2 separate regions of the Homo sapiens genome follow, and region 1 is linked to region 2. Evidence: fine-mapped expression QTL. A gene starts in region 2. The other region holds a variant in brackets. All regions are shown on one strand. Distances are between the middles of the regions.

Region 1 (8,731 bases), 820 kb after region 2:
TAGGACACAGATAACATTCGTTGTGCATTATCATTTTTTTTCTTCTGTTTTTAATTTTCAAAGACAGGGTCTCATTCTGTTGCCCAGGCTGGTGTGATCATAGCTCACTGCAGCCTTCAACTCCTGGGCTCAAGTGATCCTCCTGCCTCAGCCTCCTGAGTAGTTGGGAGTACAGGTGTGCACCACCATGCCTGGCTAATTTTTAAAAATTTTTTGTAGATACAGAATCTCACTATGTTGCTCAGGCTGGTTCTGAATTCCTGGGCTCAAGCAATCCTCCTGCATTGTTCTTTGCTTGGGAATCCAGCCTAGTCCAAGCGGACAATGAGTTGTGGAGTGGAGGGAATGACTCTAGAAGGAAAGAGAAGTGTCATTTCTGCATGGACCAGTGCACCAGGATCCTGACTCGTAGGACACCAGAAGGGTCCTAGGCCCTGAATCAAAGTCAGACATTTCAGTTCTATGCTCCAGTGCTGTATCTCTGGTCTCAGTTCTGAATAAACCTGTGTGAGACAGGTCCTTCTAGCTTTTCTCATTTTCAGCAATCAATCCCTCCAAATAATATACATAATTTGATTCAAAATAAGATATGTGACAGGCACACACTTGGGAGAGAATACTGAAATGAACATACTGGTTTTGCTCCCTGCTGGCTTCTTGCCAGTGGGGTGTGGCTGTGAGACAAGCTTCCTAAACTCACCTCATATGCAGCCAGGCGCTCAGGCGAGATCGTAGGTGGTCCTGTGCCCCATCTCAGAGCCCTGCTCCTGGCTCATCCTGGCTTCCACCCTGTAGACAGCATCTCCCCCAACTCCACATGCTTGGATAAACTGCCTTATGTCACCACTGTGTGCCCCAGAGTTTGGGTCTGTATCTGAGGAAGGGAGGGAAAGGAACTGATTAGAAGTCAAAGCCCCCTTGACCAGGTGTGGTGGCTCACACCTGTCATCCCAACACTCTGGGAGGCCATGGTGGGCAGATCACTTGAGGTCAGGGGTTTGAGACCAGCCTGGCCAACATGGCAATACCCTGTCTTCACTAAAAATACCAAAAAAAAAAAAAAAAAAAGGTAGCTGGGTCAGGCGCTGTGGCTTACACCTGTAATCCTAACACTGGGAGGCTGAGGTGGGTGGATCACTTGAGATCAGGAGTTCAAGACCAGCCTGGCCAATATGGTGAAACCTTATCTCTACTAAAAATACAAAAATTTAGCCAGGTATGATGGCATGCACCTGTACCTCAGCCACTCGGGAGGCTGAGGCAGGAGAATCACTTGAACCCAGAAGGTGGAGGTTGCAGTGAGCCGAGATTGCGCCACTGCCCTCCAACCTGGGGACAGAGCGAGACTCTGTCTCAAAAAAAAAAAAAAATTATCCAGGCATGGTGGCGGACACCTGTAGTGCTGGCTACTTGGGAGGCTGAGGCAGGAGAATTGTTTGAACCTGGGAGATGGAGGTTGCAGTGAGCCAAGATCATGCCACTGCACTTCAGCCTGGGCGACAGACTGAGTGAGACTCCATTGCAAAAAAAAAAAAAAAGTCAAACCCCCTCATGCACCAACCCTACCCCAAGCCCATGCCCACTGTGTCCACTGGCCTCCTGCTCTTTGCATCCTTCCCCTGTGGGCAGGTGCAGGGAGCGGGCCATGGACACTACCTTGGGAGTCCCCTGTCCCACCAACACCCCCACCCGCTTGTCCAGGACAGAAGTAGGGTGGGCCCTGGCTTTAGGGTGGGCCCTTAAAGGTGGGTTGGGGTCACCCACAAGGCCCACCCCTACCACCTCCATGAGGCTGAGACTTTGGGGCCGTGACGGAAGCTTTCTTTAGACTCTGTCCTGGGGGTGCACATGTGGATTAAATTAGAGCAATATGTTTTTCAAACAGCATCTTGGCTGAAAAGTCAAGCAGATAAATGGAAACAAACCCAGCTTTATGTGACTGGAAAGGGGCTGGTGGGAGGGCCGCTTCTGCCTGAAGCACCACTGCAGGCCAGGCTCCCCTCCTGGGCTCTCTCCACCCCCACCTCTTCCCCCTCTCCACCCTCCCCCTGCAGCCCTGACCCCCTGGCCTAGCCCAGGAAGGCCTCAGCAGAGGCTCTCCCTGCCACTCCACATCCCCTCTCCAGGCCCCTGCTCCAGCCTGCCTGGCCTCCAGCTGCACCCGTCAGCTGTCAACCTTGCTATGCCTTCTGGTCAGTGTCTTCTCGGAGGTCAGTCTGGCACCACGGTGGAGAAGGCACTTTTGAATCACTGGACAGGTCACATGCTGTTTCCCTGTTAGTCTCCTCATCTGTAATTGAGGATGCTGATGCCTCCTTCAAAGGGCTCCAGCAAGGACTTAGTGAGAAGATTCATGGGAAGCCCTCAGCTGGCCTAGGACACAGATAACATTTGTTGTGCATTCTCTCTCTTTTTTCTTTTTTTAATTTTTAGAGACAGGGTCTCACTCTGTCGCCCAGGCTGGAGTGTAGTGGTGCAATCAGAGCTCACTGCAGCCTCCAACTCCTGGCCTCCAGTGATCCTCCAGCCTCGGCCTCCCAAGTAGCTGGGACTATAGATGCATGCAACCACACCCAGCTAATTTATTTATTTATTGGAGAGAGGGGGTCTTGCTATGTTGCCCAGGCTGGTCTTGAACTCCTGGGCTCAAGCAGTCCTCCTGCCTCAGCCTCCCAATGTGCTGGGGTTACAGGTGTGAGCCATTGTGGGCTTGGCTTCATTTTTTTCAGTCTTACACAAAGTCTAGAAAAGATAATTTTAGAAGATACGTTACCTTTTTATTTGTTTTCAGAGACAGGGTCTCATTTTGTTGCCTAGGCTGGTATTGAACTCCTGGGCTCAAGTGATCCTCCCACCTTGGCCTCCCAAAGTGCTGGGATTACAGGAGTGAGCCACCTCGCCTGGCCCACTGTCTTTATTATTATTGTTATTATTATTACTACTATTACTCGCCATCTCACCTCTTCTCAGCAAACAGCTCACTCCTCCCCACTGACCACCACAGCTGGGGTAACAGCAGGGGCAGAGACAGCAGCTATTGAATGAACACTTGTTGGCAGATTGGCTTGTGATGAGGGTGATGAGGGGTTTTGCTATTGTTAGTAGGAAGGAAGAGCTGGGCATGCTGTCCTACAAAGCGACCTGAATCCATCCCCCCGGGCCCACTCCCAGGTCCTGTGTGTGGAGCTGCTCGCAAGGTCCCCTGGGAAAACTGATATGGCTGCTGCCAGGCATCCATTCAAGATGGCAACTTCCCAGCAGTTCAAATACCTGGTCAGGAACTGGTTAGTCACTAGATGACATAAGAGTCCAGCAGTTGTGATTTAGATTTTTTTAAACCACTTTGTTCTGTAAGCATTTTTGGGGACTTGGACTCAATGAGCCCCTTCCACGTAGGAGGAGAGCATTAGTGAAATCCCTGCTGTTCCAAGAACTTCCTCACTCACTCCAGGGCCCACTGGC[C/T]GCTGTCTCACCAGAAATCCCTCAGCCACGTTGACCACTCACTCACCTGATTCCCCCAAAAGACTGCACTCTTCAAGGAAGGGCAGAAAAGGAGTGGTACCCTGCCTTGTACACCTGCCCTCAGTGCTGGAGTACTTAGCACAGGCCTCCCCTGTGAAAAGTGCTTGGAAAATCTTGAGTGACTGATGGTACTTATAAATGCCAAGTTATTATCGATCATCTTTCTTGTTTAATCTTTTTGTTTGTTTTGAGATAGGGTCTTGCTCTGTTGCCCAGGCTGGAGTGCAGTGGCACGATCTCAGCTCACTGCAGCCTCCGCCTCCCAGGTTCAAGCAATTCTCCCATCCCAGCCTCCCCACTAGCTGGGATTACAGGGGTGCACCACCACACCCAGCTAGTTTTTGCATTTTTAGTAGAGATGGGGTTTCAGCATGTTGGCCAGGCTTGTCTCGAACTCCTGACCTCAGGTGATCCACCCGCCTCAGCCTCCCAAAGTGCTGGGATTACAGATGTGAGCCACTGTGCCTGGCCTTTTTTTTTTTTTTTTTTTGAGATGGAGTCTCGCCCTGTTGCCTAGGCTGGAGTGCAATGGCACAATCTCAGGTCACTGCAATGTCTGCACCCCCCCCCCCCAATGGTTCAAGTGATTTCCGGCTAATTTCTGTATTTTCAGTAGAGACGGAATTTCACCATGTTGACCAGGCTGGTCTCGAACTCCTGACCTCAAGTGATCCGCCCACCTTGGCCACCCAAAGTGCTAGGATTACAGGTGTGAGCCATTGCTCCTGGCCACCTTTGTCATTTAATCTTTACTCTATTAAAGGTTAGTAAAGATTATCTAGTAAAGAGATACAGGAAAGCCCGAGAGGCTGCCTTTTAGATGGTCAGATGGTCAGAAGTTCTGCCCTCATGTTGGCACTGGCAGCTCTGTGCCTGCACCTCCCTCTTCTGGACACACCAACATCTCTTCGAAGTCAGGGACTACATCCAACCCTCTCCCGGCAGCATCCTTCCAGCGTCTAGAATGTGGAAGGCACTGCACATAGATGCTGTGAGTGCATTGGTAGAGAAGAGGGAGTGGGAGACGGAAATTGCTGAGAAAATGGCAATGCAGGTTTATTTCACTCTCCGGATACTGTCACAAAAATCTGGTTGTGGGTGGGATGGGGAAAAAACCAAAGGCCATGTGATAGCCCCTCTGGGCTGTGACCTTCAAGGAGGGTGGCCCTGGAGGGAATAAAGGGCCTTCCTCCCTATCGTCTCTCATTCCCGTCTTGGGCCAGAGAATCCCAGGAGCCAGATCCAACTAAAAGTCAGAGGCAAGGGAGACATTGATGCAGTCCACATGGGCCAGCCTTGAGGGCGGATATGAAAGGCACAGGAAACACTTGGGCTTCCAAGGGAAGGCAGGGAAGTGGTTCTCTTTTCTCAGCAGGTTTCTCTGATCTGTACCAAGGGGGCTTCATACAGCTTTGTTGATCCTCTCCAGCTCAGATACCAATGGATTCTCAATTCCCCCACCGAAGACAAGCAAAGGCAGGCTCAGATAGAAATACGGTAAGAGGCCGGGTGCAGTGGCTCAAGCCTGTAATCCCAACACTTTGGGAGGCCAAGGTGGGCAGATCACTTGAGCTCGGGAGTTCAAGACCAGCCTGGCCAATATGGTGAAACCCCATCTCTACTAAAAATACAAAAAAATTAGCCGGGTGTGGTGGCGGGCACCTATAATCCCAGCTACTTGGGAGGCTGAGGCAGGAGAATCGCTTGAGGGGTTGCAGTGAGCCAAGATCACGCCACTGCACTCCAGCCTGGGCAAACAGAGCAAGACTGCATCTAAAAAGAAAAAAAGAAAAAGAAAGAAATGTGGTTAGAGGCAGACCTCGGACACATCCATCCATCCCCCACCTTCCTACAACCAAATCTCAGAAGGGAGATCAGAAGTCATGGCCAGGCATGGTGGCTGTTCCTACAATCCCAAGGCCTTGGGAGGCCAAGCAAGGCAGGAAGATCGTTTGAGGCTGAGTGTTAGAGACTAGCCTGGGCAACACAGCAAAACCCCCTCTCTACAAAAAATAAAGAAATTAGCCATGGTGGTGCACACCTGTAGTCCCAGCTTCTTGGGAGGCCAAGGTGGGAGGATCACTTGAGCCCAGGAGTTGGAGGCTTCAGTGAGCTGTGATCGTGCCACTGCACTCCAGTCTGGGTGATAGAGCGAGACCCTCTCTCTAAATAAAATAAAATCAAGCAGGGCTCCATCTCCAAACTGATTTGGGTTTGTTGAGGTTAGAGTGCATGGGAAGGAGAAAATAGATTTCTTTTTTGGGATAAAAGGTTACGACCTACAAGCTACTCAAACACCTGTTCTTTAGAAAACAATGGGCAGGTGGAAAGTTAGGAAGTCAGTTTCTTTGGGGGGTCTTTTTTTTTTTTTTTAAAATAAGGATTTGATGCTGGAGTCTTCAGAATCTGAGTTTATATTAAAAATGTGGAAGTGCCAAACCTCAAAGCAAGTCTGTGGAGCCAAAGTGAGTGGGATGGTAGCAGAGAAGAAAGACGCAGGGGAGGCTGTGATGCGGCACAGAGCTGGAGGCCCTGTGGGCTCGCTCATCTCGCATTCTGCACCGCGCAGGTGGTGTGGGATCGCAGCGCTTGCGAGCGCCTGTTCATAGCTTATTGCCACGGGGGAGGCGCGCGGGCAGCAGCAGCCCAGGCGTTCAAAAGACCTGCATCGCTGTCAGAGAGCCGGGGATTGGGTCTCTGTAGAGACACCCCAGAGTCTGGGAAACTCCTTATTTGCAGGCAGTTTTCAGCTGTCCACTTGCTCCAACACTGCCCCCTTTTATGGGGCTGCAGTGGGAACCCTTTCTTAGGGTCCTGCTGAGCACCTCTCTTTCTGGGCGGTATATATCCTTCTGTAGCGCATTCCCTCTCTTGCTATACGGCTCTCTCTCATATATATATATATATATATATATATATATATATATATATATATATATATCTCACCGTGTTCATACATATAGATCTAGATCTAGTTTATTCATTTTGATTCTTCGATAGTATTCCATTGCATAGCTATACTTTTTTTTTTTTTTTTTTTACCTATTGCTCAATTATTAGAAATTTAGGATATTCCCACTTCGGGGCTAACAATGCAAGCCTGGGCAACACCATGAGACCCCGTCTCTACAAAAAATATCCAGGCATGGTGGAGCATGCCTGTAGTCCCAGCTACTCAGGATGCTGAGGTGGGAGGATCACTGAGCCCAGGAGGTCAAGACTGCAGTGAGCCGTGATCACGCCACTGCACTGTAGCCCTGCGCGACAGAACGAGATCCGTGTCAAAAAACAAAGTAAAGGCAAAAAAACAAGGCAGTGCTCAACACATGTTGAGCACCTAACCTGGTGCACATAACCTTGAGCATTGCAGGGCAGATAGCTAAATGAAGAAATGTCAGGTGATGTGGGGATGTGCATCTTCAAATTCCCTAGCTCTTGCCAAATTCCTCATCAATTTGTTCTCTGAAGATACACTACCATTAGGAACACAAAACGGATCCCATTTCCCCACATCCCTGCCCACAGTCTGTTATCTGACGATCACATTTTGCCATTTCTAATTTCTATTTTCCTGGTTGAGAGTGAGTTGACATCTTCTCACATGCTTGTGGATGATTTGATTTTTTCACTTATGATTTGCCCAGTGATATCCCAGCCATTTTTCATTAGATTGTATTTTTCTGATTGCTTCATAATAGTTTATAAAATATTCTGGATACCAATCTTTTGTTGTTGTTGTTACATGGGTTGTAAATATCCTCTCCCAGTCTGTCGGAGTTTTTTTTGTTGTTGTTGTTGTTTTTGTTTTTTAAGACAAAGCCTCGCTCTGTCGCCTCCCAGGTACAAGCAATTCTCCTGTCTCAGCCTCCGGAGTAGCTGGGATTACAGGTGCCCACCAACCACGCCTGGCTAATTTTTGTATTTTTAGTAGAGATGGGGTTTCACCATGTTGGCCAGGGTGGTCTTGAACTTCTGACCTCAGGTGATCCACCTGCCTTGATCTCCCAAAGTGCTGAGATTATAGGTGTGAGCCACCGTGCCCAGCCTGTGGGTTGTTTTTTAATATTGAGGTTGGTGTCTTCTGATATGCAGAAGTTGTAAATTTTAATGTAGTAGAATTCTCTTTGTCTTTTGTGGTTTATAGTTTTTATATCTTATTCAAAAAGAACTTTCTCTACCCCCAATGGCATAAAAATATTTTTTCTTTCTTTTTTCTTTAATTCCAACTTATTGAGGCATAATTTTTACAAAATAAAATGCACCCATGCATTTTGACAAATGTATACAACCATGTAACCACCCTCCACCCAAAAAAGACATAGAACGTTTCCACACCTATAGCTGCTTTCCTGCTCCTGCCTAGTAGATAACCTGCCTTCCTAGCCCCTGCTCTAGGCAGTGACCAATCTGCTTTTTGTCACTATTTCTATTTCATATCAACAGAATAGTACAGCACATACTCTTGTATCTGGCTTCTTTTGCCCGGCATCATGCTGCTTTTTTTTTTTTTTTTTTTAGTTCTAGGGTACATGTGCAGGTTTGTTACATGGTAAACCTGTACCATGTTTACCTACATGGTTTGCCACGGTGGTTTGCTGCACCCAGCATCATACTTTTGAGGCATCATTTTGTTTTGTTTTTTTGATTTTTGAGATGGAGTCTTGTTCTGTTGCCCAGGCTGGAGTGCAGTATTGTGATCTCAGCTCACTGCAACCTCTGCTTCCTGGGTTCAAGTAATTCTCCTGCCTCAGCCTCCCGAGTAGCTAAGATTACAGGTATGCACCACCATGCCTGGCTCATTTTTTTTGTTTGTTTTTTGTTTTTTTAGTAGAGATGGGGTTTTTGCCAAGTTGGCCAGGCTGGTCTCGAACTCCTGGCCTCAAGTGATCCGCCCACCCCGGCCTCCCAAAGTGCTGGGATTACAGGCATGAGCCACCTCTGCTGGCTGAGGCATCATTTTGAGAGATCACTTATGCTTTTGAGAATCAGCCATGCCATTGCACATACCAGCAGTTTATCCTCTTTTGTGCTGAATAGTGTTCTGTTGTATGGATACACCACAATTTGTGTTTTCACTTATCTGTCGTTTGGATTGTTTCCAGTTTTTGGTTTTTATGAGTAAAGCTGCTATGAACATTTGTGTACAAGTCTCGGTATGGGTATATGTTTTTCTTTCTCTTGGGTAAATATCTAAGTGTGGAATCTCTGG
Region 2 (8,731 bases):
TTATGTCAATCTAATGCCTGATGATCTGAGGTAGAACGGTTTCATCCCCAAACCATCACCTCCACCACCTCCCACTTCCGTGGAAAAATTGTCTTCCACGAAACTGATCCCTGGTGTCAAAAAGGTTGAGGACTCCTGCCATAGACAGTCCTTAAATAGGACCTGGAAGGGGAAAAAAATAAGAGTAGATTTCAAAGAAAATATTCTAAGGAAATGCTCACAGATGTGCTTAGAAATTCTTCTCAATAGTACTCATTTCACAGTATTATTTAAAATAGTAAAACTTTAGAAGTTTAAATATTCAATAATAGCTTATTGGCTAGTCAAATTATAATATGTGCAAAAAGTACAGCCATTTAATACAGAGTTATTACTGTCTGTGATTTGTAAAACAGACTGCTCTACTGTGGTAATTTTTTAGCTCTGAGAGTTCATTCAGTATTGTATTACTTTATTTGGATATTTTGCATGCATGTTCACCAGTGACATGGATCTTTGGTTTTAAAGGCAGAATTTACTTTTCTCAGGTTTGGAGAAAATAATTAAAATTCGAATCGCCTTCCAATGGCAGAAAATCCTCTCCACAAATGTAGAAAAAAAAAGAAAGCAGTTTTATTACTGAATAAGCTAAATCAGACCTTGATGCACTTCACAAGCGATCCACTATTGAGATGAAAAGGACAGGAAGAAATCTCATCTTTTTATATAGGCAAGCAGATACAATCCAACACACATTTTCCAAATAAACAATAACTTATCCTCAAGTAAGATTTGACAGTTCAATTTGCTACACAAAATTTCTTCTAAATTCACCTGTTAATTGGAGTTGCCACTGTGTTAATTGCCTATATCCCAAATAAAAATAACATTTCTCATATCTTTGACAAACCAGTCATTACAACTTAGAGCCAGGGATGCTTCTTTCTTCCCCTTCAGTTGCCTGGGCAGCTTGAGATGTTCACTCATCTCAGTTCCCAAAAGAACATAGGATATCTATCCTAGCACTTATTTAAATTTCCCATGCTTTCTTACTTTTCTACCAGTGCCACAATCTTCAATACAGGAGCCACTAGCCAACTTGGCTACAACATTTAAATTAATTAAAATGTAAAAATAAAATAATTAAATAAAATTTAAAATTTATTTTCTCCATTGCTTAAGCCACAGTTCAAGTACTCAATAGTCAGATGGGGCTGTTGGCTACCGTACTGATCAGTACACATGCACAGCACTTCCACCACTGCAGAAAGTTCTCTTAGACAATACTGCACTAGATCATGAAGTCCTGTGTGTCAGTGTACACCAAAATCCATGTACAACTCTTCCTAACAGGTACTTCATAAGTGTTTAGAAGATGAACCAATGAATGGTTTTGGCATTAGTTCACTTTAGCCTTTACTTTGTTTTTTCTTTCAAGAGGCAGGTTCTTGCTCTGTCACCAAGCTGGAGTGCAGTGACATAATCATAGCTCACTACAGGCTTACACCAGAGGGCTCAAGAAATCTTCCTACCTCATCAGCCTCCCGAGTAACTGGGACAACAGGCATGCACTACCACACCAGTTTTTCAATTCTAATTATCTTAATTATTCCATGAAAACAGACTTCACCCAAGATGTACATCTGCTACTTACATCCCCTCCTGTGCAAGCTTCACCTTCCATGCCATGATTCTGCCCCACCAGTTCTTCATTACTCATCTTATTCACTCCACAATTACTTACTAAGCATCCATTTGGTGCCAGGTAACACTCTGGGTACTGACGCTATAACAGTCAACAAAGAAGAAAAAGCATTCCTCCCACCAGGAACAGACAATGAGCACGTGCATATACTGAACATACAGTACATCAGCTAGTGAGTGACACACACTGTGGAAAACAACAAAGCAGTGATGGAGGAGTGGAAGCGCTAGGGAAGGTGACTGCAATTGCAAATAGGCTTTCAGGGAAGCTGTTCTGAGAAAGTAACCACGGAACAAACACAGAAGGAGATAAGGATGCAAGCTTGTGCGTATGTGGGGGAAGAATATTCCACGTGGATGGCACAGCAACTGGTGACAGAGGCTGGAGCGCACAGGAATGAGGAGGCAGAGAAGGAAGGTGGGATCAGGGAGGTAATGGCCTAATTGTACAAATAGGTCATTGCAGAAGTGACTCAGTTAGAACCACTGAAAAATTTTAGGTTGCGGAATGACAGGAATTTATATAACAATAGGACCATGGTCACAGCTGTACTGAGAACAGACTGATGAGGGTTAAGGGCAGATGCTGGGAATCCAGCTAGGAGGCTACCGCAATAATCCAGGTGGCTCGGACTGGGGTGGTAGTGGTGGTGGTGGTGATGGGCTAACTAATGGTCAGATGCTGTATACGGTGTATCGTTTAGATCCAAACTAGAGGACCTGAATATGAGTTATAAGTCAAAAGGAAGAATCAAGGATGACTCCAAACATCTCTTCACTTGAGACCACATGGTACAGTTTTGACAACCATAAACCGAATAACCTTACATTCCAAAGTTGCATTGTGAATTACAGTTTTAAAATGTTGGCAATCTAGAAAGTCTTCTAGCAGAAAACTGTAGAAAAGAGGAACACTGGGTGATGAGGACAATACCTTGGAGCTCTCCTGTGGGCTCCATTCTTCCTATAGTGAAAGGAACCATAGATCTAGTCCCTTAAATGGACTTGATTAGGTGGGAACAGGCAGGAGAAGCAAAGCAAACACACAGAGGCCTAATAAAGTGTTTCAGGAAGATTTGGGGACACACCGACTTACCTGAGACATTATTCTGCAATTTCCAATGGCCAACAGAGTCCCCTTTCCAGGTTCTTATCTTAGAGATGGGCAGTGTCCTGAGGGCACAGAAAGGCAGGAAAAAGCAGTCATGAAAAATCGGGCTTATCTTGCGGCACCTGTCACACACCTTAATGGAAAAGCACACTGGTAATCACTCGCCGGAGCGTCAATCTCTCCCTGGGAAGGAACAGGGTGTTTCTCCGCAAGGGCTATTTACCAGGTGCCACCTGCGGGGAAAATCAATTATTCTGTATACAAAAGACTCATAAAACAACGGTAACAACTTTATCAGCTCGTTCAGTCTTCACCACTTTGCAAGGTGTGCATTCATATTATTCCAGATTTTTTTTTTTTTTTTTTTGAGACGGAGTCTCGTTCTGTCTCCAGGCTGGAGTGCAATGGAGCGACCTCGACTCACTGCAACCTCTGCCTCCCGGGTTGAAGCGATTCTCCTACCTCAACCTCTCGAATAGCTGGGATTATAGACACGTGCCACCACGCCCAGCTAATTTTTTTTTGTATTTTTAGTAGAGACGGCGTTTCGCCATGTTCGTTAGGCTGGTGCGGTGGCTTACGCCTTTAATCCCAGCACTTCGGAAGGCGGAGGCGGGCGGATCGCTTGAGGTCGAGTTCTAAACCAGATTTATTTTTTAAAATGAAGACAAAACTGAAATTCCGAGATACTGAACCCATTTGTTCAAGGTTGCACAACTGAAAGCGCCGGCTTCATGACGACATAACCCAAAAAAAACTGTAGCTGGCGTCTGCTCTCGCGCCCACTTCGCTCTCACAACAGTGCCAAGAGGTCGGCGCCGTCATCACCCCGCGTTTACACGGCTCAACAGGAAGGCCAGGAAATGCCCAAGGCCCCGGCCGTGGTCAAACCGCGCGCGGACCCAGGGCCTTAGCCCCGCCGTCGCCGCGACCCACACTTGCCGGAGTCCTCAGCAGGGCCTCACCGTCCCGCAGGCGCCCCGAGCCCGCGCCTCCGCGGACCTGACGCGCCGCGTAGCTGGTGAGCGGGTAACGGCGGCCGACCTCCGGGAACGACACTGCCCCAAACCGTTCCTTAGCTTGGAAGCCGCCGCCAGGCCTGAAGCTATCGCGGGACTGACCCAGTGCACCGCCCACGGCGAACCACATTTCCCAGAATCCTCCCCCTGCGGTACAAATGTCCCGGAAGCCGCGAACCGCCGGCACCCGAAGACCACACTTCCCAAGGGTCTCTGCGGCTGCGCGGACCTGGTGCGCCGCGGGCAAACCGGTCACGGCTTTGTAAGTAGCTTAACCGCCTGGGGCCGTCGACCTAGAGCCGGCCAGCTAGGACCATGCGCAAATTGTCCTGGGGCACACAGTCGTCCTCTGGTGAACGATACAACTCGAAACCAAGGGACACCCTCTACTTATAAGGGCCATGGCGCCCGGACCAAGAAATTACATTTCCCAGAAAACTGCAGCCGTGCCAAGGTCTTCCGGGTCATTCCTGCGCTCACACAAACGTTTCCCTCCGAGACATGGGCAGCCCTTGCTGGTACCGCGCAAGTGCTCGCCGTTGCTAGCAAAGGGGCTCCTCTCATCCCAAACCCTGCCGCTATGCTGTTCACCTTCAGGTCTTTTTTTTTTTTTTTTTTTGGCACTCATTTGCCCAAGACGATAACTCACAAAACGCCCTGTGGCCCGACTGTCACGACTGTAGTTCGCCAACCAAGGGCATTTCCTGGAAATGCAAGGGGACACGTATCTGTGACACTAATGGCCGTTCTGACGTGCGTTACGCCCCTGGAAGGACTTGGAAATACTGAACTTGAGTGAGCACTGGGAGGATGGAGACCCTCATCCTGGGAGGAGTCACTCCTCCCGCAGCCATCACAGCCTGACGCCCCCTCTCCCCAGAAGTGCTTCTTAGGCCCACCCAAAAGGGCAATGGACCTCTCTGTATGCAAGCCAGAGCAGTCTACTGTTTGTGTATATTTGGGTTGTTTACTTTCTTTTTAACACTTAAATGTTAATTGACTTCAATCATTTTTAAAATTATAAATAGTGTCGCTATAGACTTTTTTGTACTTATTAAGTACTGACCTGCATGATCTTCGTGAAGCAGTGCTTCTGTTACCAGAAAGGGGTCCGGATCCGACCCCAAGAGAGAGTTCTTAGAGCTCACGCAAGAAAAAATCCATGGGAGAGCACAGTGCAAAGCCAAAGCAAGTGTATTAAGAAAGTAAAGAAACAATGGGTACTCCATTGTTAGAGCAGCAGCTTGGGCTGCTGGACTAGGGATACTTGTATTTATTGCTTGATGATGTGCTAAACAAGGGTGGATTATTCATGAGTTTTCCAGGAAAGAGGTGGGCAATTTCAATTTCTCGGAGCTGAGGGCTTCCCAGCTTTTTGAACCATACAGGGTAACTTCTGAACCTTACCATGGCATTTGTAAATTGCCATGGCACTGATGAGCGTTTCTCTTAGCGTGCTAATGCATATAATTAGCATATAACCGAGAGGTGAAGCCAGCTGGGCTTCTGGATCAGGTGGGGCCTTGGAGAACTTTTCTGTATAGCTGAAGGATTGTAAATACACCAATCAGTGCTCTGTGTCTAGCTAAAGGTTTGTAAATGCACCAGTCAGCACTCTGTAAAAACGGACCAAACAGCACTCTGTAAAATAGACCAATCAGCGCTCTGTAAAATGGACAAATCAGCAGGATGTGGGCGGGGCCAAATAAGGGAATAAAAACGGGCCACCCGAACAACCAGCGGCAACCGCGCTGGGGTCTACTTCCCAGGTGTGGGATGTTTGTTCTTTTGCTCTTTGGGTCTGCACTACCTTTATGAGCTGCAACACTCACCCTGAAGGTCTGCAGCTTCACTCTTGAAGCCAGCGAGACCACAAACCCACTGGGAGGAACGAACAACTCCAGACACGCCGTCTTTAGGAGCTGTAACACTCACTGTGAAGGTCTGCAGCTTCACTCCTGAAGCCAGCGAAATCATGAACCCACCGGGAGGAACAAACAACTCCAGCACGACTCCAGACGCACCGCCTTTATGAGCTGTAACACACACCGCGAGGGTCTGCAGCTTCACTCCTGAAGCCAGCCAGACCAGGAACCCACCAGAAGGAACCAATTCCGGACACATAACAAGCAGCAGTGAGGACACCAAAGGTCAGTCTCCTCGCCATCTTGATTTTGGTGGGTTTTGGCTGGCTTCTTTACTGCAATTTGTTTAACCAGCAAGGCCTTTATGACCTGACCTGTAGCTTGTGCCGACTTCCAATGTTATCCTGTGACTTAGAATGCCTTAAGTGTCTGGGAAGTAGGTCTCAGCCTCATTTTACCCAGGCCCTATTCAAGATGGAGTCGCTCTGGTTTAAACACCTCTGACAGTTCTACCTTGGTGTATCCTGTGGGTGTGGTTGTGAATTCCTATAGCAGCCACAGTTTTAAAAAACACTGGCATCAGCTGGCTTCCTCTCAAGGCTTAGAGTATGTAATAAGGAAAGACTGGATTGTGCAAAGCATGTTTCCATCTATGATTTTACTATACAATCATGAATTGTTTTCCAAAGTTGTACCAATTTTCACTCCTACCAGAGTTTATGGTTATTTTGCTTGCCAACTCTTACTGCCAACACTCTCTTTGTGAAACTTTAAAAGTTTAATAATCTACTAGGTGTGAAATAGTAACTCACTGTGGCTTAAAGTTGCATTTTTTAATTGTTAATGAGATTGAGAATCTTTTTGAATGTCTATTGGTCTTAGTATTCCCTTCTCTGAGAATTGCAGGTCTTTTGGTCAAGTTCTTTTGGAATGATGACCTTTTTAATATTAAAATGCAAGAGACATAGGAAAAAATGAGGTTTAAGGAGATAGTGAGATAGTGCAGTGACTAGGTTATTAAGATCGTTTCCCACTTAGAATCCTGGGCTTTCAACTGAAATAGTAACTGAATGTGTTTTCTGGAGTTTGGCATAATGTTTCTGGTTATGAAATTCTTAAATTCTTTCCTGCTTGGGATTTGCTGAACAACTTGAATCTGTGATGTGTCATCTCTGGTAATCAGCAAACTCTTCCTCTCCCATATATTGCCTCTTCACCATTGTTTCTCTGCTTTGAGAACCCCAATTCGTTATGAGGCAGGTGTTACCCCTCTATCCTCCAGGTGTCTTAAATTCTCTGTGATTTTCATCCTTCAATCTCTGTGTTGCATTCTGGATAATTTATTCCGATCTATTGCCCATTCATAATTATCTCTCCAGGACATTTTAATTTCAATTTTCCAAACTTTTTTAACATGGTAGGTATAGTTGCTTCATAATATGTATCTGATAATAACAATAACTGAAGATTTTGTGGGCCCGTTTGGATGTTTATTTCCAAATTCTTCAATCAGTTTGCTTTGCTTCCTTTTTTGTTGGTTATCTTTGTCCTTGAAAAGAGATTTCATGTAGCTTTCCCATATCCTTAGATGAAAGTGCCTTTCTCTTCTAGAGATTATATAATTTCCTTTCAGACAAGACCAGGATCCCTGCCACTTTGGAACCACTTTAAACCACACTTAAGACATAAAGTCCCTGCTCAGTCCATCCAGAAAAGCTTACATAGGGATTTTTCATTGTTTCTGCTTTTCCTCATGATCTCACTGGAAGAATTATGGTGGTTTCCCATTATGAGTCCTCAGATATTTGGAATATGAGTTAAGTTCATGAGTGGAGAGAGGGCCAACATTAAAGGACTAGATGTGACTCAGGGCATAGGTGAGAAGAACTTTAAATGGAGGGCTAGTCCTTTTGTTTCAATAGCTATGTCTGGCCATCTCATAAAAAGCATTCCTGTGAAGTTAAACCCCTAACTTGTGAATGCCCCATCGTTAGGGAAGCAGGAGTATAAGAGAGCCAGAGGATGCCATTTTAAGTATAGTTCCATTTTGAGACTAGCAAAGCACATTCCTTGTCGGTCATGGCCCATAGTCATGGGGTGTTTATAGTTGAGGAAACAGCCTAAAGATACCTACAGGGACACTCCTACAACAGTGCAGAGTCCAGATGTCCCAATACCCGTAACAATATATGCTTTGAAGATAATAGCTATGTTTTGATGTACTTACACACTGGAATGTCCAGGTTAGTTTAAATGAATACTGTAATAATTTTTTTTATTCTGCCTGCTCACCCACACATAGACCCAGCTTAGCTTAGTTTTTTCATAGATAAGACCCCTATATAAGAAAAACTTAAAGCCAGTGCATTCCTCCTCTTGTTTTCTGAGGGCCTCCTGCTCACTAATGGTGTAGCTTCTAATAAACTTGCATCTTTCACTGCACTCTGCGACACATCTTAAATTCCTTCCTGAACAAGATCCAAGAACCCTCTTGGGGTCTGGATCGAGACCCCTTTTCCAGTGACACCCTGACTTGCATTGTTAGCAGAAAGGTTAGAGGCACTGGAATAGAGACTGAGGAACAGAAATCAGGGGTGTGAGGTAGAGAGAATCATAGGCATAAGCAAGTCTGATTTAAACAAATATGCCAGACACTTGAGAAAGAAAATGAAGCAGAGAGAGAGAGCAATAAGGAGAAACTAAAACACATTACATGCAATACTCAACCCACTCCCTTCCACTAGCTCTTAGCTGCCTTCTGTCCCTTTCCTATTTAAAATAATGCAGTGTTTACAATCAGTAATTTTTGCTGTTGGGATTTATCTGGTCAAGGGCACATTTTAGAATATGAACTTTGGAGAAGAAAAGCCAGTTTACTCTGATGCAGAAGCTGTTTAAGATTCAGGGTGTGCTATGATGTGAATGTCTGTCCCCCGCCCCCGCCACAGAATTCATATGCTGAAACCGAATCCCCAGTGTGACAATATTAAGAGGTGAGGCCTTTGAGGAAATGTTAAGTTATGAGGCTGGAGTTCTTATGAATGGATTGATGT

Evidence for each region.
Region 1: its variant is fine-mapped to the expression of SCGB2B2 in subcutaneous fat (FUSION, PIP 0.95).

The regions. Positions count from the first base shown.
Region 1 is chr19:33,856,598-33,865,328 of GRCh38, reverse strand. No RefSeq gene overlaps it. Among named protein-coding and RNA genes, the nearest start is that of SUNO1, 44 kb to the left of the region's middle. The variant C/T (reference allele first, on the strand shown) is at 3,463.
Region 2 is chr19:34,672,862-34,681,592 of GRCh38, reverse strand. It overlaps SCGB2B2 (secretoglobin family 2B member 2), which reads left to right and starts at 4,434. Exons shown (of 4, transcript NM_001025591.4): 1 at 4,434-5,963. It overlaps ZNF302 (zinc finger protein 302), which reads right to left and starts at 3,915. Exons shown (of 5, transcript NM_001289187.2): 1 at 3,490-3,915; 2 at 2,780-2,856. The coding sequence starts at 2,788. It also overlaps the pseudogene ZNF807P and the pseudogene SCGB1B2P. RefSeq lists enhancers at 1,790-2,291, 3,149-4,045, 4,177-4,236, 4,287-4,386, 4,046-4,943 and a silencer at 3,667-3,726.